Regions from separate parts of the Homo sapiens genome. Here all the other regions are linked to region 3. The links come from fine-mapping of genetic effects on gene expression. A gene starts in region 3. Each other region holds a variant in brackets. All regions are shown on one strand. Distances are between the middles of the regions. Region 1 has its middle 20 kb from the start of OR6N2. Region 2 has its middle 7.8 kb from the start of OR6K6. Region 3 holds the start of OR6K3 (olfactory receptor family 6 subfamily K member 3).

Region 1 (11,373 bases), 80 kb after region 3:
AAAAAGTAAAAGTGTGGTCACCATGTTCTAAGGGCCCGCCATGATCACGTACTTGAGGTCTGACTCCTAGTATAACCTACAGTGGGAAAACAGTTGGTGCTGTTCTACAGCATTGTCTCTGCCTTCATAAAACCCATCATCTCCAGCCTCAGGAACAAGGATGTAAAAGGGGCTTCTTGGAAAGTACTTAGAGTCAAAGGGACAGCTCAAGGACCTAGTATGCTTCAGAGTTTTCCATAATCATGGGCAACCTGGAGGGGTCTTATTTGGTACCTTAAAAGTACATCAGTTATCTTTTTGTTAAGCTTTCTATTCTTTGCTCATGCTCAGCTCCCTCTTGAACTTCAGTTTTTTAGATTTGCTCCTCTGAGGTAATTTTCTATGTCTTGTAGGCTTCCTTCATTTAGTTTCATTCTTTTTTCTTCTCTGACTGTGTATTTTCCAACACCCTGTCATTGAGCTCACTGGTTCTTTCCTCTGCCTGATCCATTCCGCTGTTGAGAGCCTCTAAAGAATTTTACAGTTTAGCAAATATACTTCTAATTTCCAGGGTTCCTATTTGATTTGTTTCTCACTATTTCAATTTCTTTGTTAAAATTTTCTGATACATTTCTAAATTGCTTTTTTGTATTATTTTGAATATCTTTGAGTTTTATTAAAACTTCTCTTTATTCTTAATCAGGGAACTTCCCTATTGCTGTCTTATTAGTGTTGGTTACTGGTTCCTTGCTTTGTCAATTTGGGGAGCTCATGATTTTCTGTTTGTGTATGTACATTTGTCTTTAAATTGAAAAATTATTTATTCCAGTCTCCTTTATCTGATATATTTTTGTTTTTATTGGATATGTTTGCTTAGCGTTTTCTTTACAACTTACCTTTTTTTTTTTTTTGTAGGTCACTGCCTCCTTTTCAGCACTAAGTGGCAACTAAGTCCAGGTTTACCTCTGTTTTAGCAGGTGTTCAGAGTGCTGCCTGTCCAGGATGGGGGAGGTCCCAAAGGGGATAATGCAGCAGAATGGGAAAGCTGTCTAGGATTTTGTGCCCAAGAGACTAACAGAACATACCTCCTACAGTGAGGTTCTACTGAACACTCTAATTTGGCAACTCCTTCAGCCAAGATACAGAGAGTTTCCCAGGCTGGGGATGCTGCTAGCCCCACCTGCCCCCTTTGTCTCTGTCATTCTTCAGGAATTTTTCTCCATTCAAGTACTTGTGCACCTTTCTGTGTGTTGAGGCAGGAACAGGTCTCCTGCCAGGAAACCCAAGATGTTGAGAAAGCTGGCTGTCCATCTTGAACTTACCTTTTCCAATGTAGTAACTGTGAATCAGGGGAAATTTCCCAAATGCCTGGTTCATGACAAATCGGGGGGAAAGCGTTATACTTATAAAAATCCGATTCTATCACCCTCTGCACAGCGTTTTTACTTCTCTGCAACCCCAGAAACTATCTCATCCTTCTATTTGGGTTCTGGGATATTGCTAGTGATAATTTCTGCACTGTATGTGTATATTTTGTTGTTTGTTTTTTATTTTCTATGAGATCGAGGGTAGTGGAGCCAGGTTGCTTCTACTCTATCATTTTGGTGACCTAAGTCATATTTTTTCTGTACAATATTAAATAAAAGTAATATTGGTAATTAATCTTGTTTTGTTCTTAACTGGGATTATTGAATTTAGCTTAGGAATATTTGGAGGAAGACTTTTGCATATATGTTAATGAATGATATTATCATCTATTTTTTCACATTACTAGTTTTATTTATTTTGGAATCACTGTTAGGCTATCTTTGTAAAATGCACTGTTGAGCTGCATTGCCAGTGTTTTAATTCTCAGAAGAATGTAAAAATAGGAACTATGTTTTTCGTCAATATTAGATAGAACTCACTTATTAAGCAAGCTGCCACTGATGTTTTCTTTCTAGTGATTTTTTAACTTCTAATTTAATATCATTTAGATTTTATATTAATTCTGATGTTGATATTTCTAATTTATAATTTTTTAGAAATGAATCCAGCCAATTTAAAATTTTAATTAACTGGCATATATTATTAGTAATATGTTATTATAACTTTAAACTTTGATGCATCTGTAATTCTGCCAATTGTTCATTCTTAATCTTTCTTATTTTTGCCCCTCTCTCTCCTTTATTTTTTATTAGTCTTGTCAGGAGTTTATTTTTATTTTTAGGAACCAACATTTTTATTAGTATATCATTTTTGTCATATATTTATTTTTATTGTATTAATTTCTGCTCCCAGATTTTTTCTTACACTTTCTTTTTTTGCCCTAACATTATTTTTCTAATTTTTAAACTTGAATGCTTAGTTAATTAATTTTATACTTTTTAAATAATATTAAATTTAAGGCTATAAACTTCTAAAAAGCACTTTTTCCCAAATATTTTGAAATTATACTTTTTGTTATTGTTCAGATATAGATGTTTTCTACTTTTCCTATGATACTTCTGAGAGTAAGTTGTATGGAAGTATTTTCTTTAAATATCAAACATATGGACATGTGAAATTTATCATTTATTTATTTCTAATTTATTTATATCACTAGTAGAAGCAGAGGTCTATATTATATTAATATTATTAATTCTATTAACTGTATTGACACTTGTTTTATGGCCAAGCATTTGTTTAATTCCACTGTGCTTGAAATCAATCTTTATTCCATGTGCCTCCAGTAGGTGGACCTTGTTAATTATTCTACAAATAATTTATATATATACTTATGATTTATTTGCCTGGTGTTTTTATTCCTAAGGGGAGAGATTTCAAATGTCTTACTCTGATAGTGGGCGTGTTAATTTTCCTTACAGTGCTTTTACGTGATTACTGTGCAGCATGGAAAGCCACAGACCTCCTTCCACTGCATGGCAGAAAGCAGAGCAGAACACACAAACCGGGCAGGCTGGCTCCCTGGGAGAAGAGCACAGGAAAGAACTGTGCTACATATGCCCAGTTCCCCCTTCCAGTCCCACCAATTGGAGTAGACGGCTGGTTCTCAGACTTTAACTTGCATGCATAACATCCTGAAGTTATTAAAACACCAATTACTAGACCCCACTTTCAAAGTATCTAATTTAGTTGATCTGAAATAGACCTTCTCATTAAAATAAAAATCTTTTTCTATTGCTAAAGTTTTTACCTGAGAAGATTCCAGGTGACTTGATCCCCATTTATCTCACACCTAGTCAATGTTTGGAGAAAGCTTAAAAAGACTGTATGATTTGTTCACCACGTTAGCCAAAGAAATGACGAACGTACCCATAAAATATTGGCATTACGTTTAGACCTTAATAAACATAGACAAAAAATACCTTCCCAATAATTACTCTGCAGGCTCATATAAATCGTGTTTAAAAGGATTTTCTCTCTCTAGCCTACGTTTAAGTAGAAGGTCATTCAAGTGAAAGGTCATATGTAGGCTGACTTGTGGGATCATATATGTTCTAAAAACCCACAGTTGTCAGGGATGGTAAGGAGGGTGAAAACTCAGTCAACATGATTAGATCCTCTTGGTTTTTAAATGAAAGTTAAATCTTTTGGATTAAGTTTAGAATCTACCTACTAACTAATGTTGAAAAGACATTTATCTATTTACCTTCTGTGGGAGATTTAATGAGAAAATAGACAAAGGACATCCAACTATAAATCGTATGTTTGTGTAGTCAGGGATCCTTGTATAATCAAGGATCACAAAATTAAGCGACATCATGGGATGGTTTGTGTAGTATGAAACCCAAACTTACTTCTGGAAAGGAAAATTGAGACTGCAGGAGTCTGAGAGAAGAAAGGGTGGCTGGACAAGACTTGTGAACCTCCACAGCCAGCCATGTTGTCTACAGATATGAGTTACTCTATGGGAAGATAGGGCCCTAGAAGAAGTCTATGACTCATTGTATCTGCTTTCCCGCCTACATGTGTTGCATGGTGCTTGGTGCCAGAGGCTTTCTACTTCAGATAAAATGGAAAAAAAAAAGAAGCCAAAAGGTATACTGGAAAGCGTTAGAAAACGTTGGTGCTATCCCATTCTCAGTCTGTTTCTAAGTTGCCATGTAACCTTAATTAATTAAGTTATTCCCTACCTCTTGATTTCAGTTTTATGTTTTTGTAAAGACAGAGGGGTTTAGACCAGATGACTTCTTAAGCACCGTTTAAATCAGAAGTTCAATGATTCTCAGTGACTTCCTGGTGGAATTCACCTAGCTGCAAATGGTGTTTGCTCAAAGCAAGTCTTCAAAAGTTGTCTTGGCTTACCCCAACAGTTGAACCTATCTACCCCATACCACAAAGGAAAAGTTGCTTTTACCTAGGAAAGAAAAAAAAAATCAAGGATTTGATTTCTACTATTTTGCTGTTGTTGTTTTTCTCCACAACATTAATTTTCAAGGTTTGACAATATTAAAATTGGTTTGCCTTTATTTAGGATCCACCAAATGTCAGAAAAGAGAATATAGTCCGTATCTGAGCTGGATGCTCAGAGAAAATTTACCTGAGGGTATATTGCCATAGAAAAACCTCAAATTGGACAACTTATCCACATTTAATAGGTGGGGACCCCAGAACATTCTGTGATCTTAGTCAAATTTACTAAATTGAGAGGGAGATAATGCTGCTGTATGCTACTCCACACACATTGTTCTCTACACATATCTTTTCTCTTAAAATAAGCTAAAATAAATACAAAGTCATCCCTGCATTTGGAAAGAAAGCATTTCAACATCATTTTTCAAAAACAGGAAACCCAAAACTTACGCTATCACTAAAAAGAAATTTTAAAAGGTTGTCCAGAGAGTTTTTATTTCAAAAATAAGTTTTCTTTTTGTATCTTCAATAAGCTATGGCTATGTTATCCTCAGACAGGGAATCTCCTAGTAGGATCCTACAGTTCCACGCTTGGTCTTCAGAGAACCTTCAGAGAAGTAGCAACTGGGTGCCCAGTTAGCATTCTAAAGTCTAAGGCATGAGAAGAGATCACAATACACTTCTACACTTCCATGAGACTTTCTTTTGTTTTGCTCATTCACTTCTCACCAATCCATGCACTCCTTCCCACCACTTTTCATGACCTCCCATCATCACAAAAGTACATAGAACAAAATGAAAAAAAGTCTGTTTCTTGGTGTTAGTCAGTATGTTGCTGCACATACTGGTGTGTGTGTGTGTGTGTGTGTGTGTGTGGTCTGTCTGTGTGTGTATGTGAAGAAGAGAAAAAGGTGGGGGTGGCGGTGGGGAGAGAGAGAGTGGGTTGGCTCCTTAAAACAAAATTGTTAAATGCCGGGGTTTTTTTCCCACCCACCTTGCCAGAAAACAGGAGAGACAGAAAAGTATCCATCTAGTCCCTAAAGAAATGTCCCATCTGTCAAAGTCAGAACTGCAGGGTTACATGAAGAATCAATGAACAGACAAAGTACATTTTAAAGAAGGATTCCTAAGGGAGACATGCATCAGGAATTCTCAAAGGGAATGAGGAGAGAGAGGAATTGGTAAGCTAAGGCCCCTATATTGTTGGTCTAGAAGGGCTGTAGCGCAACAGAAAAAGCATTCTATTTCTAAATTGACTTTGTAAACTTGTTTTGCCACTAACTCAAAATGAACATTGGGCTTAACCATTTCTCCTTTCTTTACTTCAACTTCCCCTTCTCTATATAAATGTTGTATAAAGCCCCTCACCACCCTGGTAGTCTGTGGATCTCTAAAGCCATTGAAAAATGTTTCTAGGGTGGATATGGAGTTGGGTGGTCTATATCAATGTCCCTGGAGTTTTCTTTCCATATTCTAATAGTCCTTATCTGGGAAAGATCAAAGCCTTTACCTAGTTCTCTTTTTTAGATACTCTAATCTTTTCTGTACCACCCCTGCCCATTACCTGATGGTTTTGATGACATTAGAATTTACAACATCCTCCTCTGCATCTTTTCTACCCCAAGACACTCCCCTACTTA[T/C]ATTTCATGTTCCTGGAAATGCTGACCTCCCAGGGGCTCCTTGCTATATGTTCTCTGGAGTTGCTAAGTGTGTAAAGTTTTTTGTAAGTGCTCCTCTGGGGTAGGAAGTTGGACACAGAGAAGTAAAGCAGCCCTACTCTCTTTCAAATGGCTTTTCTGCAACCCTCACTGGCTCTAGAATCCAATCCCAGGGACACTGCCTCTTCTGGGACTCTAGAAGTTCTGCAAGTCCCTCATAGCACTTTTTTTTTTTTTTTTTTTTTTTTTTGAAACGGAGTCTTGCTCTGTCACCCAGGCTGGAGTGCAGTGGAGCGATCTCGGCTCACTGCAACCTCTGCCTTCCAGGTTCAAGCGATTCTCCTGCCTCAGCCTCCCAAGTAGCTGGGACAACAGGCATGTGCCACCACACCCAGCTAATTTTTTGTATTTTTTAGTAGAGACAGGGTTTCACCATTTTAGCCAAGATGGTCTCGCTCTCCTGACCTCGTGATCCACCCGCCTTGGCCTCCCCGTCATAGCTTTTCATGAGAAGAGACAATCCAACTTGAATACATGAAGAATCACATCTTTAGCACCCCAGAGGTGAGTTTCATCTTAAAAGCTTTTTTTGCAAGGAGATTTCTCATCCATCCCTACTAACCTCACCACATCACCATATTATCACAGCACAGGCACCACTATCACTTTTGCGCTTACCATCTCTACCTTTGTTACTCTCACCACTGTCCCTCCCTTTGCCATGTCAGCTATCTTTAGCCATTGTTCCAAATGATTGATGTTGAATACCTAATACACTTGTCTAAGTCTCCATCACCAGTATTATTACCATTACTTACATTATCACTACCATTATTATTACCCAGGCATCTTCATGAGACTAATCTACTTTTTCATTATTACTTTTACTTATATCCATATCCTCAATATGTTCATCAACATCCTAATCTTGACATCTGAACTCTTATCTCAGCTGTGTGTTCTCTGTGGGCATGTACTTAGATGGATATGGAGTCCAGATGAATAATGGAATTACAGCATTTATCTATCAGAAGTAAGGTATTTGAATCATTCATAGCCCCAAATGTACTTTTATTTTTCAGAATCAGGTGGAAAGAAAGCAGTTGCTATATTAAATTTAAGATACGGAGGTAACCATAAAAAGATTAACAAGTAAATCATATTAAACGGAAGAAAAATACTAAGTGTTCTGAGTTCAAATTGGAAAAGCTTTCCTGTAGGAGACGGAAAGTTTCTGAGCCAAAGGAAAGGAAGATATTTGTTTCTGAGAGTACTAATGTGACTTTGGGATTGAAAGAGTCTCTCAAATTTTTGGACAATATGAGGGTCTCATTCAACCTTAATCAGCATTTAGCTTATGTCCCACTTACTCTGAAATACCTAACCTTTCACAAAGATGGATAGTTGAAACTATCCTTCACTAAATTACTGCATCTCCCACAGTCTCAAGCACCAACAGATCTTTTGTTTTCATTTTTATTTCATGGATATATAGATTAGCCATCTATCCCAATTCTTCAAATGAATAATTGTGCTGTACTCAAAGTGGCCACTTTAATACTCATTTTTATTCCTCCCTATATCACATCACATTGGTGTTCCTACGTTCCTCTTTTCCTCTTGTGAGCCAGACTCTGAGACAGACTTTCTGCATCATTTGTATTGTCTAACTGTATACCTGTATGGCTTGGCATTGACTGAATAAATTACAATGCCCATGCATGATCCCTCAGAAGGCTATCAACATGACAAATACCTGAGCATAAGAATTGTAAACATTACCTAGAATCAGTTAGTGTAGATATGCGTACTAAACAATCAAGGCTTCCAAGTTTAGTTCTTGCCTAGTCAAGAACATTGTTTCTTCTCTTTTATGTCACCACTTGTCAGTAAAGAGTGCTTACTTGGCATTTATTCTGTATCAGAAATAGAGTGAGGGAAAATGACAAGTTCTGGTATTACTGTGCAATGGGTTCACTGTCCCATGAGCTTAGAAGCCAATACTGTGACACCAGTTTTTAAGAAAGAAGAAGCCTTATTTCAAGGTTGACCAGCAATGAGGCAGGAGGCAATGTTCAAATCTGTCTCCCCTAACTGAGGTCTGGGGACAGGTTTTATAGGCAGAGAGCAATTAAGAGGGAGATAGGAAAATGCAACAAAGCGTTATCTGATTGGTTCCTGAGAAGAGATTATGCCAGGTCCTTGACTTTTAGGATTGTGCTGCAACAAAACAGGTCTCCTTTCCTTTTTAATTTGATCACCATCCTTTGGTCTGAATACTTAGGTTCTGCATGTGGTTTACTTTTTTGTTCTGGTTGGCTCCAGGGTCACAAATCTGGCACACTTGGTTCATCTGGGCACACTTGGGTTACATACAACCTGAGGGTCCATTGCAACTAAAAAACAAGTCATCATTTTGTTGTATTTTGTTATTGACAAAGTTAAACCAGATTGAACTGGTTCTGTGGTTACACTGATATCTTCATCAAGCAATTCATTATTTGAGGAGAAAGGTGAGATCTAAAATTATTTGTTAAAAGCTTAAGTGATAAAAGTAGTATTCAGCATGTTCAAATTTTCATAGTATCATTGCTACTATTTGGAAAAACAGCATATGCTTACTAAAATTTAGAAATAAATAGAGAAATAATTTTTGAAGTAATGGGATTATAAGTAATTTAAATTTTTATTTACCTAAACATTTAATGTCCTATATTTATATGTAATACATTATTTTTAAAATGTGCTGTAAATGTTAGGAAAAAAATGATATGAAATGCAACTAACATAATGTGAGAAATAGGGAAATTCACAATAATTCATTTATCTATTTATTTAATACATTTTTGAAACAGCTTTTATGTCCCAGACTTTATTCTAGGAACTGGAGAAAATGGGATGCGTATAACACTGTTGCTTCCCTTAAGATATTTATTATATAGAGTGGGAGGAGACAGATCCTCAAATCACCTGATTATTTTTTAAAATATAAGTTTTTTAAACATGTAAGAAAAAATTTCAACTTCACACATAAGATGAATTTTTGAACCTTTTAGAGATATTATTTATTGAAGCAAATAAACTTTTAAAACAACTATGTAAATGAAGTGATACATCAAGGTCACATGCCCTTGTTTGCCCAGTACAACTGTGGTTTATATCTGTTGTCACTGGATACATTGATAGTATTTCATTTTGTTCTCTGATGTACTTGAGTTTGAATGTCCTGTATGACAGAATGTCAGCCTTGATGCTAGTACCAAGTGAATGGTCTGATTATGCTGCCTTTCAGACGTGACTGCTTCTTACTGTCTATGTTGCTAGAGTCAATATCCAATTGTCACCATGGGAGAAGTGGCCAAAAGTTGGACCTCACCTTGGGCACTTACCCCAATATGTCACACTAAGGCACTACTTCTCAAACTTTTATTTTCATATCATAGCGCTTATAAAAGTGATGGTATCTGTAGGACACACTGAGGTGAACAGAAAGGCCACTTACTGCTTGAGGCAACCAGTCCAAGGACTTCAATTCCCTTAGGTCCTATCTGACCATTCATAGGGTGTGTGTTAGGGGCAAGGACTCAGTAACTCAGCACATCTGTTATTTATATCTGTTGAGAAGCTCTGCGCTAAAGATGACCTGAACTTTATGTTCTAAAGGAAATACCCAAGGAGGTCTCAAGAGAAAAAAAAGAATATAGAATAGAGTACAGAATGAAAGGCAAGGGGAGTTTGCAGCTATAAATGGATCTTAAAAAAATACCTTCTGGTGGAGTTTCAAGAGGGGAACTCAATCTCTATCACACCCATTTGACTCTTAAGAGTTTGTTCATTCATTCATTTGTTCAAATATGAGTGGATACCATGCATTGTAGTACAAATTAATAGTGAGATATAAGCCACTTTGAGTTGTTAGATGACTGCTTATGTCTTCACTACAGGATGGTAAGTCCCCCATGTTCACTGCACAGTATGCACCCCACAGATATTAGTAATTATCAAGAATTGCTATAACAGTTTTAGTAATTATTATTACTATAATTACCTATTAATTAATGTGATCTAAGCCATTTCAATTTAAGCCATCTTCTAGTGCTGCCACCACAGGGAAAAAAGAGTTTCTGTTGGGCCCATAATAGTTCCTGCAAAAAGAGTAGTCTGAGTGAAGTGAGGTGCAGAAGGAGAGAAAGAAAAGGAGCCCAAAAGCAGTAGACTCAGACTGTCAGCAGAATAGAGTTTTGCACCATGTATTTGGGAAACAGCATAGACTTCTTGAAAGCAGGGACTACTCAGTTTATGACAAGATAAATTTGGACCCTTAGGTCAAAAGAAGATGCCTCATTTGGAGAGTTACCAAGTCTATTGTAATAACAATGTGAGATAGCTGTAAAACTAAGCATTATCAAAGAAATAAATCCCCACTGAAGACATTTATGTGGAAAACTCTGAAGTAACAATGATTAATATTTACATGCTTAACGTTCTTTTATTGTCCCCATTTTGCATGTAAGGGAACTGAGGTGGAGGGAATTTAAGTGTATTGCATATGATCACACAGCAAATAAATGATAGAATTGACTTTTGAACACAGGCAGAGAGCCTTCAAAGACCGTGGTGTAAGCACTATACTGTCCTGATTCTGGTATGCTGAGACTAACTTGCTTATGAAATACTTAGTATGTGTTATTTAACTTTAGAACACTTTGATGTAGTTTTTTTTTTAAAGGAAAACAAATCTGGCATTAGAGAGAGCTTATGTTTTTTGCCCAAAATCATAGAGGCAAAAATGGCAACACCTGAATTTGTACCAACACCTTTCCATCTCTGCTCTGCAAATTCAGATCTTACACATCTGGACCTAGTTCAGGTCCTGCTTTCCTTAAGAAGTGCTATAGGTGCCTGTAATCCCAGCTACTTGGGAGGCTGAGGCAGGAGAATGGCTTGAACTCGGGAGGCAGTGGTTGCAGTGAGCTGAGATCGCGCCATTGCACTCCAGCCTGGGGGACAAGAGCAAGACGTCATCTCAAAAAAAAAAAAAAAAAAAAAAGTACTGTAAGCATAGAATCAAAACTCCCTAAGCTGAGAGGAATGTGAGCACTCATTCATTGCCAGCCTTTCATTTTACAGACAGAGAGAATGAGGCTGAGGAGGGTAACTCAGTCAGCTGAAGTGGATTTAGGGTTGAATCTGTCTGTCTTTACTGCAAGTTCAATAATCTTTATAATTTTATTACGTAAATATTGGGATGTTCTTCCTTCTTCAGAGGGATATTATAAAGATTAAATTTTTAAAAACATGAAGGCAGCTGTAACTATTTCTGGCATAGTACAGACATACATAAAATAAAGCAGTAAGATCTGTAGGAATGAGGAAAATGGAAAGTATTCAAGATTAGGCA
Region 2 (11,373 bases), 25 kb after region 3:
AGCTGAGGTTTGGAGTACGGATCTCGTCACTCAGGTAGTGAGCATATTACCTGATAGGTAGTTGTTTTACCCACCCCTTCACAACCTCTGATAGTCCATAGTGTCTATTGTTTCCATATTTATGTCCATGTAACCTCTATGTTTAGCTCCCACTTATAAATGAGAACTAAAAAATAAAAGGGATGATAAAAGACATTCATAACATATTGTGAAACACAAGCAAGGATGTCAGCAGATTACTCATCAAAAACAATGCAAGTGAGAACAAAGCAGAACAACATCTTTAACTCATGGAAAAAAAGAAAAAAAAATCTTATATTTTGGACTTCTATATCCAGAAAAAAACATCTTATAAAATGAGGACAAAATAAAATACTTGCTCAGATTTACAAAGCGTTGTTGAAACTTACAAAAACAAAAACGATTAATCATCCACAGACCCACAGTGTGAGAAAAGTTGAAGGAAGCTTCTCAGGTGGAAGGAAAATGACACCAGATGAATACAGATTTTCACAAAGAAATGTGGAGTGCAGGAAAAGAGAACAATGTAGACACATGTATAAGAAGGTTTTACAATCATTTAAATATCTTTAAAACTTAACGTACTTATTTTGTTTTTGTTTTTACAGCTTAACTTACTTTTCAAGCAAAAGTAATAACATTTATAAATCATACTTATAGTCTTAGAAAAACAAGACCTATAAATTAAAATGATAGACACAAAACTTAGTACTGTTGTTATTCATATTAAAAATCATTAAAGAGATACTTCACTTTGAAAATACATGCCAAAATGTCTTTAAATAATTTCGTTAAAAAAAGAAAAAGTGCGTGGTAATTTTAAAAAACTGATTTGTTAGCATTTTAAACTTAAGGAGATGATGAGATTTCTTTGAAGAGGTGTGTGTGAACTCCATTAGCTCCCAGAGGCATTGAACATCTTTTGAGAACAGAGGATTTTCTTGGTGGCGTTTTTCATATCTTTGTTCCTCAGACTATAGATTACTGGGTTGAAAAGTAGGGCAAGGGCCGGGCGCGGTGGCTCACGCCTGTAATCCCAGCACTTTGGGAGGCCGAGGCGGGCGGATCACGAGGTCAGGAGATCGAGACCATCCCGGCTAAAACGGTGAAACCCCGTCTCTACTAAAAATACAAAAAATTAGCCGGGCGTAGTGGCGCGCGCCTGTAGTCCCAGCTACTTGGGAGGCTGAGGCAGGAGAATGGCGTGAACCCGGGAGGCGGAGCTTGCAGTGAGCCGAGATCCCGCCACTGCACTCCAGCCTGGGCGACAGAGCGAGACTCCGTCTCAAAAAAAAAAAAAAAAAAAAAAAAAGGAAAAGTAGGGCAAGGACAGCAAACATCAGTGCAATGGCCTTGTCCAGTAATGGTGGGAATGTGACAGAGAAGCGCAGATACATGAGTGACACACTGCCAAAAAACAGCAAGAAAATAGCAATGTGGGCTGCACATGTGGAGAAAGCCTTCTGACGGCTCTCACCAGAGGGAATCCTCAGGATCACCGTGATGATTCTTAAATAGAAAAGGGTGATGACAGAGACAGAGGTCAGAATGGAAATAGCACGGATCACATCTTCAACCAGAATTATTTACGTATCTGTGCAGGCCAACTGCAGCACAGGTTCAAAGTCACAAAAGAGTTGATGAATTTGGTTGGCGCCACAGAATGGAAGAGTGGAAATGCACACAATCTCTGGCAGTAACATGAGGAAGCCAAAAATGCAAGAGCCAGTGGAGAGCTGGATGCACAGTCAAGGGGACATAGTGATTGCATAGCGAAGGGGGTTGCAGATGGCTACACACCTGTCAATGGCCATCACTGTGAGGACTAGGGCTTCTGTGACCCCGAGTGAGTGGAAGAAGTACATCTGCAGGAGGCAACCTATGAAAGAGATGGTTTTCTGTTCACTGAGAAGGTTGGAGAGCATCTTGGGGATAGTCACGGTGGTGTACCAAATCTCCAGGAAGGAGAAGACACTGATAAAACTGTACATAGGATTATGGAGATGGGGGTCCGGTTGGACAGCAAAGAAAATCATGAAATTTCCAACAAGAATGAATATATAAATAAAGAGCATAGGAATGAAGAATAAGAGGCTGCCATTCTTAGATTGAGGAAAATCAGAGAAATAAAACTCAGTCACCATTGTCTGATTCTCTGGATCCATATTTTCAGCGGTTTCACTTGTTGGCTCATAAAACACAGTCAACATTCTAAGTACATGCAAAGAACAAATAAAAACCTTCTTTTCAAGCAACTAAACAGCCTTGAAATTAGGCTGGTTAAATAAAATATACTATGTGAGTCATTTTGCAACATATAAAGTTATCCTGTCAAATTTAGTAATTATAATAACTTATGTTGTCAATTATTCTGTTGGATAAGCTAACAGTATTGCTAGTTAGACATATAAATTGGTACAAACTCCCCTGAATGGCAATTTGGCAATTTATATTGAGAGTTTAAGACTGTTTAGAGTTTAAGCCTTTCACTATGTAGTCTAGGGGAAATATTTCAGATATTAAAAAAGAAATATATGACAATATTAGCTAGAACATTTATTATAACAGTAAATTAGGAACAATTTAAGTAAGTAGACATTTTCATTTTTTTGAGATGAAGTGTTGGGGACACAGAAGAATGGGTCATGACAAAATGATACCCTCTGTGGATAAGAATAAACTCATTTTTAAGTGCGCATGTTTGAAACTAAAGTATGATTAGCAGCTTCCCTTAGTCTGACTCATTATTAACAATTGAATGAAAAGAAAAAATCCAAACATTCCACCAAATATTATTTACTTTAAGACACAAGAGGCTAATCTCATGTGACATATATGGGTATACAAATTAATCTAATCTACACTCTAAAGGGGGTGTATTAGGGTTCTCTAGAGGGACGGAACTAATAGGAGATATATATATAGTTAAAGGGAAGCTTATTAAATATTAACTCACACTATTACAAGGTCCCACAATAGGCTGTCTGCAAGCTGAGGAGCAAGCAAAGCCAGTTCGAGTCCCAAAACTGAAGAACTTGGAGTCTGATGTTTGAGGGCAGGAAGGGTCCAGCAAAGGAGAAAGATGTAGGCTAGGAGCCCAGGTTAGTCTAGTCTTCTCATGTTTTTCTGCCTACTTTATATTCTAGCCACGTTGGCAGCTGATTAGATGGTGCCCACCCAGATTAAGGGTGAGTCTGCCTTTCCCAGCACGCTGACTCAAAAGTTAATCTCCTTTGGCAACATCCTCACAGACACACCCAGGATCAATACTTTGCATCCTTCAATCCAATCAAGTTGACACTCAGTATTAACTATCACAGGGAGTTAGTTAATAGTTGAAGTGAGCTAATCTAGAAATTACATTCTAGGTGTAATTTGCAACATTTGAAATACTTTAATCAATAGTCTACCTCAAGAGGCAGTTTTGACAAGGGCTTCAAATATTCTTATCTGTATCCACACTGTAGAGTTTATTAAATAATGTAAAGCAGGTTTTGTCAATTTCAGCATTATTGACATTTTGAAACAGACAATTCATTGCTCAGAGAGAAGGCAAGGCTGTTCGTGCATTATAGAATGTCTAGCAGCCACCCCTGGTCTCACCTATAAGGTGTCAGTAGCATAGACCCCTCCCTCGTCATGACTACCAAAATCATCCTAGAAATCACCAAATGTCCCTGCAGGGAAGAAGTAGAAGAAAATTTGTGCCAGTTAAGAACCACTGGCATACAGAAATTTTTTTTAATGAAAAACCAGGTGATCAAGATACGTTGATTGGCTGAAAGTATTCCTAACCTCTGGCTTGCAGGGATATAAAACAGGATGAGCTAGGCAGCCTATAGAGCTTGGAGAGGTGCAATAGGCACATGATCCATTCATTCCTGTGTTCCCTCCTTAAAAGGGTATTTATCACCTAATCTCACTAGAAAGTTAGCTTTTCTACTGCAGAGAATTTTATTACATTTTATCTTTGATAGAAACCTTCATTTATTATACTAACCAGAAAGCATAAGGAAAAAGAGTTGAGACTTCCATGAGCTTCCAAGAAAAGGCCTAATAGTAGTATGTTTTTGCCTGTTTGCTAATAAACGTTTGTTTGCATGGCAGAATTCTGACTCTTCACTTGGTACTGAGGTGAAGATGGGACCTCTAAATGGAGAAAGCTACTGATATCTACCAAAAAAGTCAGACAACTCTGAACTGCCAATGGATACAATAAATAGATAAAATTATTTGGAAACCGTAATGCCGGAGGCTATACACAAGTAAGAACCCAGCTTGGCATATGGCAACCACAATTTTTTTTCTCTTGCTTTTTATACATACAGCAAAATAGTAAGTCTATGTTGAAACAGGAAAATATGAGGTGAAAATTCCCTTGTTTTTCTTTAAGAAAACTTTTACATAAGAAATGGAGGCTCATAAAAAATAATTTATACTCTAGCAATTTTTACCTTAATTACTCTTATCTGGGCTTATTGTTTCCAGACTTGTCTTACTACATCTCACTTTCACATAGCTACTGAAATAATCTTTCCTAAATGCAAAGCTGTCAATCCTCTGTCTGAAAACCTTATACTGGCTCTCTGTAGGGTTCCAAATCAAACCTGAGCCTTTAAGCAGAACAGATAATATGGCTGTATATGAGATTGTAAAATTATTTTGTCATCCCAATATCTTATGACTGTATTATCCCCAACAGGCTTTCCTAGTATGATAGAAAATGATACCCGTGTAATTGTTCTGTGTTCTGCTTACAGAGGCAGTAGGGAGACAAACAGGGAAAGAAGCATTAAGCTCTATGTCCAGTACCGTTTGGAATTAGAAAATTGAAATCTGGAAATTTTTGTTAAAAAGGTAGGTCTTTAGGAACTTGAGTCTTTAAGAAGGAAAGAGGATGCCTATAGGAAGGCAATTTGATATAGAGTCTTGGGAGCAAAGTTATACCTAATAGGACTCTCCTATTTTCTGTAGGAATGGATACCCCAGAATCTCAACCAGAAGCTCCACTAGTTGTCCTGACATTCCTTTATTCTTAAGAGCCTGTCCTGATGCCACTAAATACAATACAAACCTAGATTAGAATTTAGCTCAGAAAATAGTAGAGTTGTGAAAGAGTCATAGAGCTAGTGGGCCAGACACAATTTGACAGATTTAGTCCAGGTGTTTGTTATCTTACGGCAATCTCTAATTGTAGGACAAACACTCACCAAAGCCCTCCATCCCTAAGTTATGGTCCTTTCCTCTACCTCATGTGTTGTCACAATCTCAACAAAATTTCCACAAGTCCTTCTTTAAAGTCCAATAGGAAATAATATGGTTCTGTGAAAATTGTCCCCCAATATCTAGTAAACAAAGTCATTCACTCATATCTCAAAGTAGAAAGTCCACCCATCAGTCCATAGCTACCTCTTCCAGAAACCAACAGAGCCACCTCCTCTTTTCCAAATGTCTCCATCTTCATTGCTCTGCAGCCCAATAAGTAGGAAGGTTGTAACCACAGCCACACCTCTAAGCATCACAGGGAATTGCTAAGTGGGAGAAAGGCTTTCTTCTAAAGGGCTCTTTCCTGGGGGGCTTAGGGAAAAGCAACTCTATGCCCCATGAGACTAATTAGGAAAACACTTGCTGACACACTCCCCTTTCATGAGGTCAACACACCTATGGGAAGCTAGGTTTTTCAGTCAGGCTAGAAATCAGATGAAAAGAGTACTTGGCTTTCCATTCTGTCCAAGGGGTAAAAGAATAGTTTAAATTACAAAATCTGCTGAGAAAGGGAAAGGATAAGGAACAAAAGGAATGAAACTAACGCAATGTGGTTCAAAGGCAGGAGAATTTTCTCTACTCTTTGGAGCAGTTTAGTGATCACACAGCACAACCCTGAAGTGTATTGCAGAAGATTCAGCCAGCTGCCATCCAGCACAGCTTAGTAGAATTTCTTCAGAAGGATCCAGGGATCACAGGGCCATTTGCAGTAGTGGCAGTAATGAGGGGGCTCTCATGAGATTTCATGGGTTTCAGGGGTTCCAGCAGCAGATATCCCAAGTGTATGGAGTCAGGAAAGGATTGAAGGGCAACCTTTCCTGCTACATGAAAGCTGTATTGATGAGCACACATGAGCTAGACCTTGGACAGACCTGAGGAAAAAAAAAAAAAGGGCCCTCATATAGAGGACAGGAAATAGAAGCAGAAGGATACTTTTCTAATTCTTTTTTTCCTACTTTTTAAAAACTGAAATTGGACTTAATATTAACCTCCAGGTGGGTAAAGGCAGAAGAAATAGACATATACAACACATAAGATTTTTTTCTTCTATCACAAAAAGAGATATAAAACAATCACGAAGTGTTAAATGTTTAGTGGAACAGTAGCAGTGGATATAGAAATGCAACAGAATTTGAAAGCATATTTGAAATTAGAAAAAAAAAACTTATGAGACACAGGCATATATGGTGCGAAAAATGAGTCAGAGCAGAGGTGACTTTCGACTCTGAATGATTAGATTTTTAATAGGCGATTTTTAAGGCAGATCCTTGAGTGGAGGCAGGGGGACTGATTGAGGCCATGA[C/G]TTCGAGGCTGCAGTGCACCGTGATCGCCCCTGTAAGCAGCCACTGCACTTCAACCGGAGCAATAGAGTGAGATTCTGTCTCTAAAAAATAAAAATAAAAAACAATAACAATAAATAAAGACAGTCCCTCAATAAGCATTCGATTAAGGAATATGTAGCTAAATAAACGAATAATTAAATGAATCGGCGAATAGCTAAAGAATCAGATAGTGACTCAAAGATAGTCTAATTTGTAGCCACACTGATGTTTACTTTTTGACCCTGATTTTATCCAGTCTTACCACTTAAGATAAATTCCTCCTCTTACGCTTTGAACCTATTTATCTCATCTCATGCAGAGACACTGTTCCTTCAGTTGTCTCACTTACCTATGTATCCTCCAAATTTTCCTCTTTTTAGTCTGCTTATATAGCTTATGAATATGCTCAAACATATTAAAGTATATACTCTTTCTCATTTTCATTGTTGCTCTAAGTCTGCCATACTGCCTTTCTTCTTCCCGATCTTATTTTCCTAAAAGCATAGTTTACTCTTTTATCAGTATTTCTGTCTCCACCTTTTCACTTCTTGTTCACATGAACCTACAACCCCACTTAAGAGATAGAATATTATGAATAACTTTGAAGACCACTACACTTTCCTCCCCAATCCAGTTCTTTATTGCCATATTACATATTACCATTCACCTGAATTTTGTGTTTATTATTCTATTTAGCACATGTGTGCACACTCAAAAACAATATACTGTTTAGTTCTGTTTTACTCTATGTAAATAGAATGGTATTTTAGGCATTACTTTATAATTTGCTTATTCACTCAACATATGTTTTGAGAATCATTCACATCAATGTATCTAGCTGCAACTTTAAAAGAAAATCCCTGCTGTCTTGTATAAATGGAGCACAATTTAATCATTCATTAGCCTTCAACGTTTTGTATTCTGGAATATTTGCATCTTCAACTTCACTAGATGCTGCCAAATTGTTTTTCAGAATCTGTCTACCACCAACAATAAATGCATTTTTATTGTTGCACATCTTTTCTAATGTTCTGGGTGGTCATATTTTTGCTACTCAGTTGTTGTGTAAACAATATGCTATTGCTTTGATTTGCAGTTGAATGTTGTATGTGTGTATGTGTGAGTGTGTGTGTGTGTGTGTGTGTACTCCTCATTTGGTTGTTTATCTTTTTCTTATTACTTTGTAGAAGCTTTTTGTATATTCTAAATAAAAATAATCAGTTATAAACGTTATTACAAATACAGACTCCTAGTGTATATCTTGTTGTTTTTCTTTTTAATGATGCTATTTGATGAAACGAACTATTAAATAGTTTTATTCATCAGTCTTTAAATTTATGGTTTATATTTATATGGAATTGAAAAATTTTAACTAAAGTTCCAATACAATTGATTAAACAATGCACCTTTTTCCACAGACCTGTTGTGCTGGCTATGTTCATCTTTTCCCCAGTGGTCTGCTATACCTACTCTCACGTATGTTAAAATCCCATACTATATTAGTCTATTTCTTTGCTTCCATTGGCTGTTTACTCCCACTGCTATTTTATTACAAATATTGCTTCATAATAACTTTTACTAAATAGACAAGTGGCACCATTTTAATCTCCTCCTTTGAAATGTCTTCTTCTTGGCCCTCATTCTTACATATCCCACTCCTCTCTACTCAAAATGAGATTTTGATTGAAATTGGGTTGAAATGATTGACTTGTAGATGATTGGCATGTTTATGTAACTGAGACATTCTATTCATTCATACAGCATATGGATCAATTTATTTATGTTTTTGATATAGTCCAATACAGTTTTATAAAGTGCTATGTTTAGATGTAACATATCTTTTACAGTTTTTTATTTTTGTTGATACTTCAAATGGCATCTTTTTATTACACTTTTTGTCAACTGTTACATATAATAATGCAATGTTAAATATATCCATTTGTATCTATGCACTTGCTGAACTTTGTGTTATAATTTGTCTTTATTTTCATTTGGAAATTTTATATCATCTTTAACTAATTTCATTCTTTCTTCTTTATGGTCTTAATGCTGTGTGTTTCTTTTTCTTATTTTCAAAGTTTTACTTTTTATGATGGACACCCATTTTTAAATATATATCTCTTTATATAGGTATATATACATACCTATGTATATAATTTTTAATGGAGATTAAGATATATTATATAATATATTTAAATTTTATTTGCTGAGTGTTACAAATAATAATAGAAAAATCATGCTGCTGTAAAGACACATGCACACGTATGTTTACTGCAGCACTATTCACAATAGCAAAGACTTGCAACCAAGCCAAATGTCCAACAATGATAGACTGGATTAAGAAAATGTGGCACATATACACCATGGAATACTATGCAGCCATAAAAAATGATGACGTTGTGCACATGTACCCTAAAACTTAAAGTATATAAAAAAAAAAGAAAAAGCTAGTCGAATTCCCTATTTCACCCAGTGATTGTTTCTTTGTTCCTGTAATTCTCTCATTTGATTTCTGCAATACATCATTGCCTTGATTCTCTCTTCGTTTCCTGAACTCTTCAGGATAAGACAATAAGATAGACCTAGGTTCAAATTCTTACTCTGCCACCTGCTTAGCTACCTGACTACAGAGAAAATACATGGTCATTAAACTTTAGTTTTCTCATCTGTTAAGTGGAAATAATAATGACTAATTTACAGAACTATGAAAGGATAAAATGAGATGAAATATAAAAATGCCCTAGCAGATTTTGTCACATATTTAATAAATGAAAGTTATTTACTATTAATACCATTTTTCTCTCACCTACCTATTGTAATCCTCCAGTCTCTTCTCATATTCCCTAAATTCTTTTTCAATTATCTAGTGCATTCTCATAGTTCAATTATAATCTCTACTTAAATAACAGACATCTGTGTCCACAGATGTGTCCAAGAAGAGACTTGTCATCTCTTCTGAAATCCAATTCTTCATCATTAATGGCAAATAGACATTTCTACTTAAAAGTTCTCTCACATTTTCAAGATAAAATATCTATAACTCATCTTCTTATAATTGCCCCTACAAGCTTTTGCTTTAGCTGGTCCTATATCTGTCGATAGTGCCATCTAACAGACGAACTCAACCTTATGAATCTGTTACCTTTAATGTTCCTTTTACCATCATAGCACAAATATAATCAGGTGTCGGGTCCTATTGATTCTTTATTCACAATTACTCCCATCTCTTCTGTCCTTTAATTCCATTATTACAGTTCTATTTTAGGCCTTTACTCCAGATTATTGCAGAATAGGCTCTGATGTCTGATAGGTACTCAGTAAATGTGAGTTGAATAAATAATACTTCCTACTTCCATAATTTCTCTACTTAAATGCATTCTACATATCATCAACGCAATTTTGTGCATTAATTCCAACTCAAAAATTATCTCATAACTTTCCGTTATGTGAAAAATATGCTTTCAAAATCCCAATGTCTGACATTCAAAGACCTCCACACTCTGCCAAACCCTACCTTCCAGTTCTGTCTCTTCCCTATTACATTCCACATGCCATATGATTGAAGCCAGGCGTATGTGCTAAATAATCTATAAACATGGATCTTGTATTATCACCTCAAAATCCTAGTTGATCGTCTTCTATTAAACATACACTACCTGAGTTTAGGTAAGTCTTAGGGCTATGCATTAAAGGTTAAAATATAAATTAATATTGATAGATAATCATCAAATTTCTTAGAATCTAGACTTATAACTAGATAATTTTAACAACAGGTGTAGGCACTAGATGCTTTACAAGCACAAAAAAGAGACTCCCTGGCCGGGGATGGTGGCTCACGTCTGTAATCCCAGCACTTTGGGAGGCCGAGGCAGGCAGATCACCTGAGGTTAGGAGTTCAAGACCGGCCTGGACAATGTGATAAAACCCCGTCTCTACTAAAAATCCAAAAATTAGCTGGGCACTGTAAGTTCCCGCTCTGGTCTGAGGGACTGGTACCCCAGCCCCCAGTTTTCAGGCCCTCCCTGGCTTGAATGTGGGACCTTACCAGGGACCTGCCCCCTTCTGCCCAGGAATCTGTCTGCTTCTGTTGCCATTCATGGCCCCCAGGCTGTAGGTGTGAAGGGGGGCCTGCATGCCAGCTCTGAGATGCCCTCTGTGCCCCCTGGGCTTCCCTCCTATGCTTCTTGGTGCCCAAAGTCTGGAGAGGGAGAAGGCATCAAGGGGCTGGTGTATCAGCACTGCTTGTAGCATGTGCATACCTGGACAGACTACAATAGGACTGGGTCTCAGCCCTTACTTTGCTCCTAGATTGGAGTGGACATTGACAGCAGGGAGAAGCCAGGCAGCAGGAGCAGGCACTTTCAAACCTGCAAGAGAAGGGGGACCTTCCCAGGACCCCAGGAGCGCAGAGGTGCCTGGGTCCGCAGCCGTGGTTTGGGTGGCTACACTTGCATGGAGGAGTGGGAGGCCATGATCCACAGTCATGACTTGGGTGGCTGTAGCCCGAACCTCCTGGGTGGGGCTTCTGCCAGTTCCATGGAGCAGGTGGCCCAGATCTACAGCCTGGGTTTGGGTGGCTGCAGCTGCGCCTGGAGGATGGGGCTCTCACCTTCTCCTTGGCCCCAAGAGCACAAGGATGCCTGGGTCTGCAACAGTGGCTTGCAGCGACACCCTGGGGTGCTCCCACCCCAACTCGGAAGGCGCAGGGCTCCCCCTTGTCCCTGGTTCCTGCCCTGGCCACACTGCTACCGTCAATACTGGCAAT
Region 3 (11,373 bases):
AGTTTTCTTTTAAACATGTGTGGCAGTACTAATAATCTAATCTTACTAAACATGTAATTATTCTAATGAATAGGTAACTACATAACTAAAAATAAAGATATAACTTAATTAAATGTTGTTTGGGCTTTTTCTTAGATCTCTATTTCTGGAAAACCCCAATGAGGTAATCCATGACTCATAATTAAACAAAAAAACTTTTCTAAGATGTGTTACCTAAATAGACACATACTACCACAGAGCACATTGTCAGCTTCTGAAGCTCAAGCTCTGTAGTTCTAACCCTCTAAAGTGGCAAACAAATTTTCTTTAACCACAGCATTTCAGAAGAAAGAAACTACAGTTATTCAGCCACATAATAAGGTTCCTCATGATATGCACAGCAACTTTTATAACGATGACACAGAGAGTATAAATATTTTTCTAGGTATAGGGAAAATAATTAGGATGACAGAAATTTCAGTGTGACAAAGCACTAGGTATAGAGTAATCTCATGTTCTAATATGTTAGACAAACATTAAAGCAATGGAAAGGGCCAGATGCGGTGGCTCACAGCTGTAATCCCAGCATTTTGGGAGGCAGAGGAGTTTGGATCACCTAAGGTCAGGAGTTCAAGACCAGCCTGACCAACACAGTGAAACCCCATCTCCACTAAAAATACAAAAATTAGCTGGGTGTGGTGGTGCATGCCTGTAATCGCGGCTACTAGGGAGGCTGAGGCAGGAGAATTGTTCAAAACCAGGAGGTGGAGGTTGCAGTGAGCCAAGATCATGCCATTGCACTCCAGCCCAGGCAACAAGAGTGAAACTCCATCTCAAAAAACAAAACAAAACAAAAGCAACGGAAGGGAACCTGTGGCTCTGTATTAACCTCCAGGCTTGTTCAACACTTTTTGAAGACAGAACAGTTTTTTAATCGCATTGTTCATGTCCTTGTTTCTCAGGCTATAAATGATGGGATTGAAGAATGGAGCAAGTACAGTAAACATCAGTGCAATGGCTGTGTCCAAAACTGGTGGATAAGTGTCGCTGAAACGCAAGTACATGAGTGATACACTGCCAAAGAATATCGGGAAGACCATGAGGTGGCCTGCACAGGTAGAAAAAGCCTTTTGCCTCCCTTCAGAAGAGGGAATCCTCAATATCACAGTGACAATTCTTACATAGGACAGGGCAATGATTAGGAAGGTAATGATGATGGTCACAGCATGAATCACATCCTCAATCAGAATCATGGACGTGTCTGTACAGGCCAGGCTTAGCACAGGGACCAAGTCACAGAAGATCTGATGGATTTGGTTGGGCCCACAGAAAGGCAGTGTGGAAATCATCACAATCTCGGGAAGCAGGATAAGGAAACCGAAGAGGCAGGAACCTGCAGAGAGTTGAGCACAGAGCCGGGGGGTCATGATCATTTGATAGCGAAGAGGGTTGCAGATGGCAACGTATCTGTCAATGGCCATGGTGGTCAGCAAGATCCCCTCTGAGTTTTCAAGTGAGTGGAAGAAATACATCTGCAAGATGCAGCCAGTCATTGAGATGGCCTTCTTTTCACTGATGAGGTTGGAGAGCATCTTGGGAATGGTGGCTGTGGTGTACCAGATCTCCAGAAAGGAAAATATACTGATAAAATTATACATGGGGTTGTGGAGATGGGTGTCCAGCCTTACAGCAGAGAAGATTAATAAGTTATCAATGATAATAAAAGTATAGATGAAAAGTAAAGGAAAGAAGTACAGGAGACTACCATCCTGAAGCTGAGGGAATCCAGTGAAGATAAATTCAGTCACTGTTGATTGGTTTCCGCTCTCCATATTTCTAGTAGAGCTACCTGTAAATGGAGAGGGCATAGTCCAGCACATGAGAGGGTAGAGAAAAAAATAAATAAGATGTACAGCTAAACATCTTTGAGAAGTAAGAAGAACTACCTTGAAGGTTTCATTTTTTTTCCTGACTTTAAACTCATGTACATATTGTCCAATGTTTGATTTTTTTCATATCAAACATTTTTTTTTGTATCAAACATTGGACAATATGTACACTAGTTTAAAGTCAGAAAAAAAAATGAAACCTTCAAGGTAGTTCTTCTTATTCCTCAAAGTTGCTTAGCTGTACATCTTATTTATTGGCACAACTGCAGAAATAGGGGTCTCCAAATGTTTTAATAATAAAAAAACTAGTTAAAATTATTTTTATTTTAGCTTAATCTCTAATATAGGTATTTGCATTTATAAGTTATACACATTTACTATATTAAGGCATAATAACACAAAATTATATATCTGTATCTCATATAATAAATTTTAAAATTAAAAAGTATGAATACGAATAAACATAACAGAAGTTATATTATGCTCTTTCCCTACCCGACTGGGCCATTGTGCACATGCTCTTTGAAAATCTCTGTTCTAACGTGTTACAATGTAAACCTGAAGTTGACATTGAAATCCTGTCTATTGTTACCTATATGTCTTTTGGAAAATTACTTAATACCTCAGAGTATCAGGTAATCATTTGCAAAATGGGATTAAAAATAGTACCTATCTAACAAGGATGCTGTAGGATTTAGTAAATACTTGCAGAAAGATTTGGACAGTGTTTAATAGGCAACTTCTGGAAAGAGTGATACAATCTACCTCTCTGCATTTCTTGTTCTCCTTTAACACTGCTGTGTGCTTCCTCCCGAGCATTATGCTGATACTATACTGATCACGTTCATCAATGCCCTGCTAATTACTAATGGAAACTATCCAGTCATCTCTGGCACTCGACACTTTTCATTACTCCTGCTTGAGACTTTGTTCCTCTGTTTCCACGATTCCATTCTCAAGGGACGTGACGCCCAGATAGCTTTAAAGGCAGTTCTAGCTTTGACTTTTGCTTCTGTTTTATTTATTTTATTTATATTTTCTTTCTTATTCTGCCTCTTCTCTCTTATATTAGCTTGTGTTGTCTTTCTTAAATTCTTTCCCAAGAGTCTATTTTCCCCAGGTTCCTATCATCCACTTCAACCTCTTATAGTTTTATACACTCCCTTAGTGATCTCATCCGCTTACAGGATTTAAACTATTAATACTTCTAAATGTTTTTCTCTAACCAATCTCTCTTTCATAAGCTTCACACCAACTATCTGACTCTTAACTCTCTGTAGCTTCACCTGCTAACATTCTCCGACTCCTCTCTCCCCTGCAATCCCATTGTTCATGTTGCTTTCTAAAATCACAGTTCTCTCCTGTTTGTGCTACTTCCTCTGACTTTAAAGTAACATATCTCTCCCTCCTCTGCCCCCTCTCCTCACACAAAAGCAATATATACTGCTGGTTAAAAGTCTAGATGCCAGAAAAAAAATTGCTAGCATTTAAATTCTCTTTATGGCTTACCAGCTCTGTGACTTAACATGAAGTTACTTAGCTTCTCTATGCCTTTAATATCTCATTTGTAAAACTGAGAAAATATTAATACTGGTTAATGAAGTCCTGAGAATAACTAAACATTTTATAATAACAATAGAATTGTACAGTATAGTATACGGTATTATTACGTCACTAATGCTGGCACTATTCCAAGCACATTGTATATATTTTTCACCTCATGCTCTTAATGCTCTAATGAGGTGAAATGATTATCCCCATTTTACAGAGGAGAAAACTTAGGCACAGACAGGTTAAGTTCTTTGTCCAGAAATTCTCGGCTAATGCAGGGCAAAGTCAGAATTTAAATCTATGCACTGTATCTCTAGAGACACATTCTAACCTACATACAGTTGACTGCCTCTACCAATACATGTAAATGTATTTTAAAACCTTAGTGTTAGGAATATAGGAAACACTTGGAAGTGTTGAATGCCATTATGCTTTATTGAAGCGTTTGTCAGGATCCATCATCAACTTACTTGTTTTACCTTCTCTAGACTATAGGTTTCTCCTTCAGGACAGTGAATGTCTTTTATCCCTCATAGTGACTACAACAGGGTTAATATGTAGAGACGGTAGGTATCAAATAAATTAACTTGGAACTCAGCCACTTGGTACAATTATAACTAAGTGCACAAGACAGCCATGAGTAAGTGAACAAAGAAAATTGGGGACTGTTTGAAAAGGGAACTATGACAATTCAGTTCTAATGAGAGCCTCAATCAAGTCTTGACTAGATGATCTCTCAGAAAATGGCATTATAAATGTGGCATGCTGTTTCATATATACCCATGCCCAGAACCACACTGAACAGAGCTTCCTCCTGTAAATACCTTTGCCTTCCACCCTTATTCAAAGTTCTAAATTCTTTAATAATCAGGTCTTCAGGTTATGAGATGATGATGATGATGATGATTATGCATGGTGAATGAATTCGGTCTCTTTATGACTTAGTCATCTACACTCACCTTTGCCAAAAACACAGGGACTCCTCAGTCTGCCTGGGTCACTGCATCCTTAATATTACTTCAGCCTTTTCAAAAAGGGATTTATAGTCTCTCCATAGGGCATCCAGGGAATAACAGGAAAGGGAACTGGGCTCTGTGGAGGATTCTTCCCCTCCACTGCACTGAAGTGAATCACCTTCTCTCATGGGGTTAATTAACAGAAAGTTTCCCCTCTTACTCTCCTTTTGTTAGATTTTCAGATCGAAGTTGTCAATAAATATATATATTTTTCCTGATTGTACTCATCTTCCCAAATTTGTAAGCTTCCTTCTCTAGCACTTTCATGATTGTCTCAGCTGTTCTTGAGTGTACCAGTGTACTATGCAAAGGGTAGTTTTGACATGATCCTGGCCTTCTTATATGAACACACAGATTTGGAAAGCCTGGAAGGAATATACTGACACCAGAAGATCATCTTGAAAAGCTATTTTACAGAAAATAAGGCCATTTCATAATAAACATGGCACTGGGGATTTAGTGCCAATACTGAAGAAAGTGAGGAAACCATGTCTTTTTTTGTTTTTCTCATGTCGTGAGTGTGTATGGGTCTTTCCTACCTTGAACAACTCACACTGGTTCTGCTGACTTCTTTATTGAAGATCAATATCTCATCTTTTCTACAAGAGTATTATTTATATCTGTGCTTCATCCACTGATCTGTTGAAATTGCAAAGTTCTCATTTTTTTCAAAGTTAATTACTTTTATCATGTCATCTTCTTCTGGAAATATGTATCAAGTTCTCAAATAGGAAGACGTGCTTTCTGAGTTTTGTCTAACTTTTCTTCTTACGATTTGGGAGCCTATTTTGGTTGTCTAACTTGTAGGTTTTTTTTAATTCAAAAATGTCAACAGGCCACATTGTATTTCCAATGATTTTGTATAATATAAAACAGTCTGTTTTGATCCCATGACTCAAGTATTCTCAAGCTCAGAAATATTTTCCTTTAATTTTACTTATTATTTTCCTCTGTTTTGTTTTTTTTCTAGAATTTTCATAATCATATTTTGCTCTGTAATATCTATTAATACATTCTCCATATATAACTTTTTCTCTTTGCATGTAATATTTGGCTCTTCATGTGGCTTCTCTAAATTCTGGGACATATCTTCCAGGCAATCTTACAAAACATTAATTTAATTTCCTGTAGTATTTAATATATTCTTCAATATCTCCATTGTATATTAAATTTTGTATTTTTTATTTCTCAACTTTTTTTCTGATATCTTCACAAATCTCATCAAAATTTTAAATAGGAAACATTTTAATGATTTGTGTCTTAGAGTTAGTCTATGTAATGAAAGAGCATTTACTTTCAATTCCCTAACCTCTCTGTCTCTCTCAGTCTCTCTCTCTCTCTTTAACTGTAGTAATCCAACTACTTATTGGGCTATGCATTTGACAAAGTTAATGATTTTAATACAAACGGTGTATGGCAAAACTAAAATCATTGTTTTAAAGAAGGCAATCTGTGTTTGTCTGTGTGTGTGAGAGAGAAGGAGAGAATATATTTGGATACAAAAAATAAGAATATTAAATATCTAAATATGCACAGCAAATATGGAAATATCTGCCACGAAGTTCAGTATTAGTTATAGATTATTGCTTTGTGCTAAAAAGTTGTGCTTTTTTGTTTTGTTTTAGTAGCCTCAGTTTACCTGGATAGTTCCTCACTTCTCTGGCTTGTAAATTTAAGATTTACTTTTCATGTCCTTCTCTGAACACAGCTCAGTGGATAACTCCATTGTGACTGGGAAATTTCATACATTCTTTGGCTCCATTCTCTCTATCCAGATTTCCCAAGTAGAGCATCGTTCTCAATTTCTGTTTTTCCAAGCTTTAATTATTTTTTCCATCGGTTGTATGTGGAATTTCATCCAGTTAATTTCTAGGCTCTCCTCTTCTGTTTTCTTGTCCAACACCGGGCAGATAAGTATTTCCCTCAGTCGGATCTCATGTACTCATACCTGAGGAAGTGTTTTAACTTTGGAGGTCAATTGTGGGAACTCTTTTCCCCAGGATATATAATGCTTTGGTTTAACTTAATTTTGATTTTTGTTTTTTGCTGTTAAATTTTCAATATATATTTTTGTTCATTCCTGGACTATCCAATAAACAGAATCAACTGGTGCTTTTGATATAAACAGAAATTATTTTCTTTTCTAGAAAAAAGAAAGTGGTATATAATATTTCAGAGTACTGACATAGCTATCATGAAGGTTTTTAGGTAAACTTATAGATATTTTAATGTTCATTACTATATCTTTACACTTTTCAGTTCTTAGGTCATCTAACAGTTCATCTAGTCCTGACTCTTTTATTTCTATTGAGTTTTTTGTGGAAGAAAATTTAAATATGTGTGTTTAAACTGTTATCTTAATACACAAATCTAAACTTGAATTTTAGAAAATTAATTTCTAGTGGCAATGCATAGACATTTTAAAGGCAGCAAAAGTGAAAACAAGAGTAATGTAGTTCAAATGATATATATTTCTATTACCTATCTGTCTATCTATCTATCTATCTATCTATCTATCACTTTGGAATGTGCTGGAGACTACTTTTAACCAAATAATTTTATTCAACCAAATTGGATGAATTCAACCAAAGCAGTCTAAGTAAATGAAGTTTGAATTCAACTTGGCTCCAGATAAATAATAACAACAAATATACTATAAATAATAATCATAGCTAAGTATTCCTAAGCATGAGTTTTTGTTTTTAATATATCACTCTTTATTAAAGCATTCTCTAAAACATCAATAACAAAAGATAGTAATTAGTTGCAAATGATATTAACAGATAACACTTATTTTGCACAAGCTCTGTGTTTTGCACATTCTCTGCACTTGCATGGAGTAAGTCATTTAATATTCATATTAGCATTTGAAGTCCTACTTTTAAAATATATTACTTTTATACCAATAGATGATAAAACTAAGATGCAGACAAGTTAATTATCAACTTGTTCAAAGTCACAAAGCAATATGTGGCATCACTGAAATACAAACCTTAACCTCTTCTGCAGATCTGATTCTTTTAACTACTGTGGTTCGTAATTCATAGTTGTTATTAATGCTTATGTAATGTAATAAGCATTTACTTAAAATGTTTATATACAAATAATAAATTAATGTTCATAAAACATATTAATTATGTTTAATGGCTTAAACATCATATTTCCTTTCTATATTTTACCCACCTGTATAAGTCTAGACAGGTAGTCCATGCTATCTTAATTTGGCATGTGTAAGCAGGATATACATGTACATGGGAAGAACCAGTATAAAGAGACACAAAATATCCATGTGACAATGAATGAATTATATGTTAATTATATGGTTTATTGTGTTAGAGTAACATCCACAGTGAAAGGTGCCTATGAGCTAGCATTAATCTACAGATAAATTAACCATCTTCTGAGGGCAGAAAAGCTTTTTAATTGCAATCTTCATGTCCTTATTTCTAAAGCTATAGATGATAGGGTTGAAAAAGGGAGCAAGAACTGCAAACATCAGTGCAACAGCTGTGTCCAAAATCGGTGGGAAAGTGGCAGAGAAACGCAGGTACATGAGGGATACACTGCCATAGAACATCAGAAAGACACTAAGATGGGCGGCACAGGTAGAAAAGGCCTTCTGGCGGCCTTCAACAGAGGGAATCCTCAGGATTACAGTGATGATTCTGATATAAGAAAGGGCAATAATCAGGACAGAGAATACAATGGCCACAGCATGGATCACATCCTCAATCAGAATCATGGACGTGTCTGTACAGGCCAAGCGCAGCACAGGTTCAAAATCACAGAAGATCTGGTGGATTTGGTTGGGTCCACAGAAGGGCAGTGTGGAAATCCATGCAATCTCTGGGAGCAACACAAGAAAGCCAAAGATGCAGGACCCCACAGAGAGCTGAACACAGAGCCCGGGGGTCATGATGGTTGGGTAGCGGAGAGGGTTACAGATGGCAACGTACCTATCAATGGCCATGGTGGTCAACAAAATCCCCTCTGAATTTCCCAGTGAATGGAAGAAGTACATCTGCAAGAGGCAGCCAACCATGGAGATGGTCCTCTGCCTGCTGATGAGGATGGAGAGCATCTTGGGAATTGTGGCAGTTGTGTACCAGATCTCCAGAAATGAGAAAATGCTGATAAAATTATACATGGGGTTGTGGAGACGGGTATCCACCCTGACTGCAAAAAATACAATAAGATTCCCAATGACAATGAATATGTAGATAACAAACAATGGAATGAAGAAGAGGAGGCTACCATCTTCAAACTGTGGGAATCCAGAGAAGAGAAACTCTGTTACTTACTGTAGCAGTTTGGTTAATACTCACCATGGTCTCAGCAACCTTAACAGCTATGGATAGAAAGACACAGCTCATTTCCTAGAAGAAATTGACAAAGTCAGATGTGTTAGCTTATATAAAAGTCAAATGAAAAATATGCTTTAGGTGGATCATGTACTTCTCTTTATTTATGAATTAAACAGATATTCATTTAGTGCCTACTATGTACCAAACACAGCTGTGGGTTTGTTGAATTCAGCAGTAAGGAAAATAATCTCTACATTCATGAAGCTTACATTCAAAAGAAGGATACCAACAATAAGAAAATAAGATATTAAGAATGTCATATTTATAAACTATATAAACTAAAGTAAATGTATAAAGGTGTTAATAATCTTTTATAATAATTCCCCAAATTGTTTTGAATCATATACCATATAAATTTTCTAATGGTTCTTAGATGCAGATTAGACAAAACTTTTAGTTGTCTTTCTCTCTATATAATTATTGTAAAGTTGTATTCTCCATTTTCCTGAATATTTTTAGTTTTTAGTATTCTGCTCCTTTATCGCACCACAGAGTGACACTGAGTGTGGCTAGAAAAGAGAGTAAAGTTTTCAGGCACAAATATGAAGGTAAAGCCTTGGTAGGAAATTCTATTCTCAGCAGCAGAAAATAATTAAGCCACCAGAAATTGACCAGAACAGAAAGAAGGGATCAGTGAGAAATTCGGCAGTGGAAGATTTGGTATCCTGTCAGTCATGTTAAGCGTCTGTCCATGACAAATACTGAAAAGAAGCAGAGGTTTTTTATAAATATCTAAGTCACGGGATTCAGATTGTTTATATCCTGACAAAGACCATCACCATAAGAAGGCAAAGGCCAAAATGTGGTATTCCAGCACAATTTAGGTCTCTTGATACCATGTCCCTCAAAAGTGGCATAAAATATAAAGATGCTATCCCTAAAAGTAGTGCAAGAAACTCATCAGCTGCACCCAGGGCTTATTGTCCAGGCCATTCAGAAGCTAGCCTAACAGATGGATCGAAAATTAGTTAAGGAGAGAGATTTAGAACACAAAGGAAGTTTGAAAGATAATATCTCCTTTGGGGTAAAAATGAATGTCTGAGGACAAGAACATTTGCTTATGCTGTACACCAGCATTTCTCCATGAAGAGAGCAAATATTTTTCCTGAGCTAATACTATTTTTTAAATTATTTATAAATCATGAATTTAAAACTTCATGTTATTTTAATAAGAAATAATATTTGAAGTTTCAAATTAAAACAAGGCATTTGAAACATAGATCAAGGAAATAAAAACATTTGGTACATTTTGGTATTTGTCAGATATCTCATTACAGAACAAAATATACATCTTGAACACATTCTATCAAGAAAGTTTATATTAACGAAGTTTAACAAATACTACTTTGGCAGCTTCTGAAAAATCAAGTGCCTAGAGAGAATTAGGACATTTTTATTGTTTTTATGTATGCGCATCTGTCAGATTTTCACAAAGTAAGATTGTTGCAAACAAAAATATTACTGCTCTACAGATATTGTCATTGATTTATTTGTTGTTTATGGAACATCCGGCACATGGATATCTATCTATCTATGTATCTATCTATGTATCTATGTATCTATGTATCTATCTATCTATCTACCTCTCTCTCTCTCTCTCTCTCTCTCTCTATCATCTATCATCTATCTATCCCTTCCTGCTTCTCTTAACTGTTTCACTTTGGTAAATAATCTTTCAGAGTGAGCTTCAACTTTTCTCTTGTAGTGCCAGACTACCAAAACACTCATGTTTAGTAGCTTTTTGATATTATGCAGTATATAAAACATGTTGCTAAAAATGTTTATGAGAAAGTTGATCAATCCAACAGTTAATTCACATGTTTTTCCATATCCTTATTATTTTAAAGATATAATTCTGAATTTGTGAATCTGGATGCTGGATGCTAGAAAATTAGCAGGTTCCACTTACTCCAAACTGGTTATCATTGATGAATTGACTGAGAAAAACAAAGAAATTGATCTGAGGACCAAATAGAAACAGGCTTTTGCTACATTGTAAGGTAGCTTGCCAATAAATAATAATTTGAGTATTGACAGTCACAGAGTTAGACCTTAAATCTGTTGATGCAGAATGGACACCAACAAGAAAAGTTCTTTTGACTTTCCTCTGAGGAAAGTACTAGCTAGAGAAGAGATATTAAACATAGGCAGAAAAGTGAAACAAAACAAGACAAAACAAAAATGTAAGCAAGCTAAACCAAAAATAAACAAATCTTGATATCATTTGGAGCCCAGTTTAATTTAAACATTGACTAAGGAGGAAATAATTTACTTTTATTACTTTATGAGCAGAGAAAATCCATAACAAAGTAAAAAAATAAAAATCTCAAATCTAAAAAGCAAGTTTTGAAATAGAGTATATTCAAAGGCACAGCAGAATGAATTTTATACATTCTCTTAGTATGTAATTATCTTATACATATATATTTATCTTATTTTATTTTAAATTGATAGAATTACATGTATTCATCATGCACAAGATGTTTTGATGTATATTCCTCTTAATTATTTTATACATTGGATTATATTATAGAAAAAAAGGAATATATATATATATATATTATGTATATATAC

What was found. PIP is the estimated chance that this variant, and not a neighbour inherited with it, causes the effect.
Region 1: its variant is fine-mapped to the expression of OR6K3 in whole blood (TOPMed, PIP above 0.99).
Region 2: its variant is fine-mapped to the expression of OR6K3 in whole blood (TOPMed, PIP 0.98).

What each region holds. Positions count from the first base shown.
Region 1 is chr1:158,796,004-158,807,376 of GRCh38, forward strand. It overlaps a transcript of OR6N1 not described here and the pseudogene OR2AQ1P. Among named protein-coding and RNA genes, the nearest start is that of OR6N2, 20 kb to the left of the region's middle. The variant T/C (reference allele first, on the strand shown) is at 5,955.
Region 2 is chr1:158,741,230-158,752,602 of GRCh38, forward strand. It overlaps the pseudogene OR6K5P. Among named protein-coding and RNA genes, the nearest start is that of OR6K6, 7.8 kb to the right of the region's middle. The variant C/G (reference allele first, on the strand shown) is at 6,590.
Region 3 is chr1:158,716,305-158,727,677 of GRCh38, forward strand. OR6K3 (olfactory receptor family 6 subfamily K member 3) reads right to left here and starts at 4,416. Exons shown (of 2, transcript NM_001005327.3): 1 at 4,379-4,416; 2 at 23-1,828. The coding sequence starts at 1,811. The coding sequence ends at 864. It also overlaps the pseudogene OR6K4P.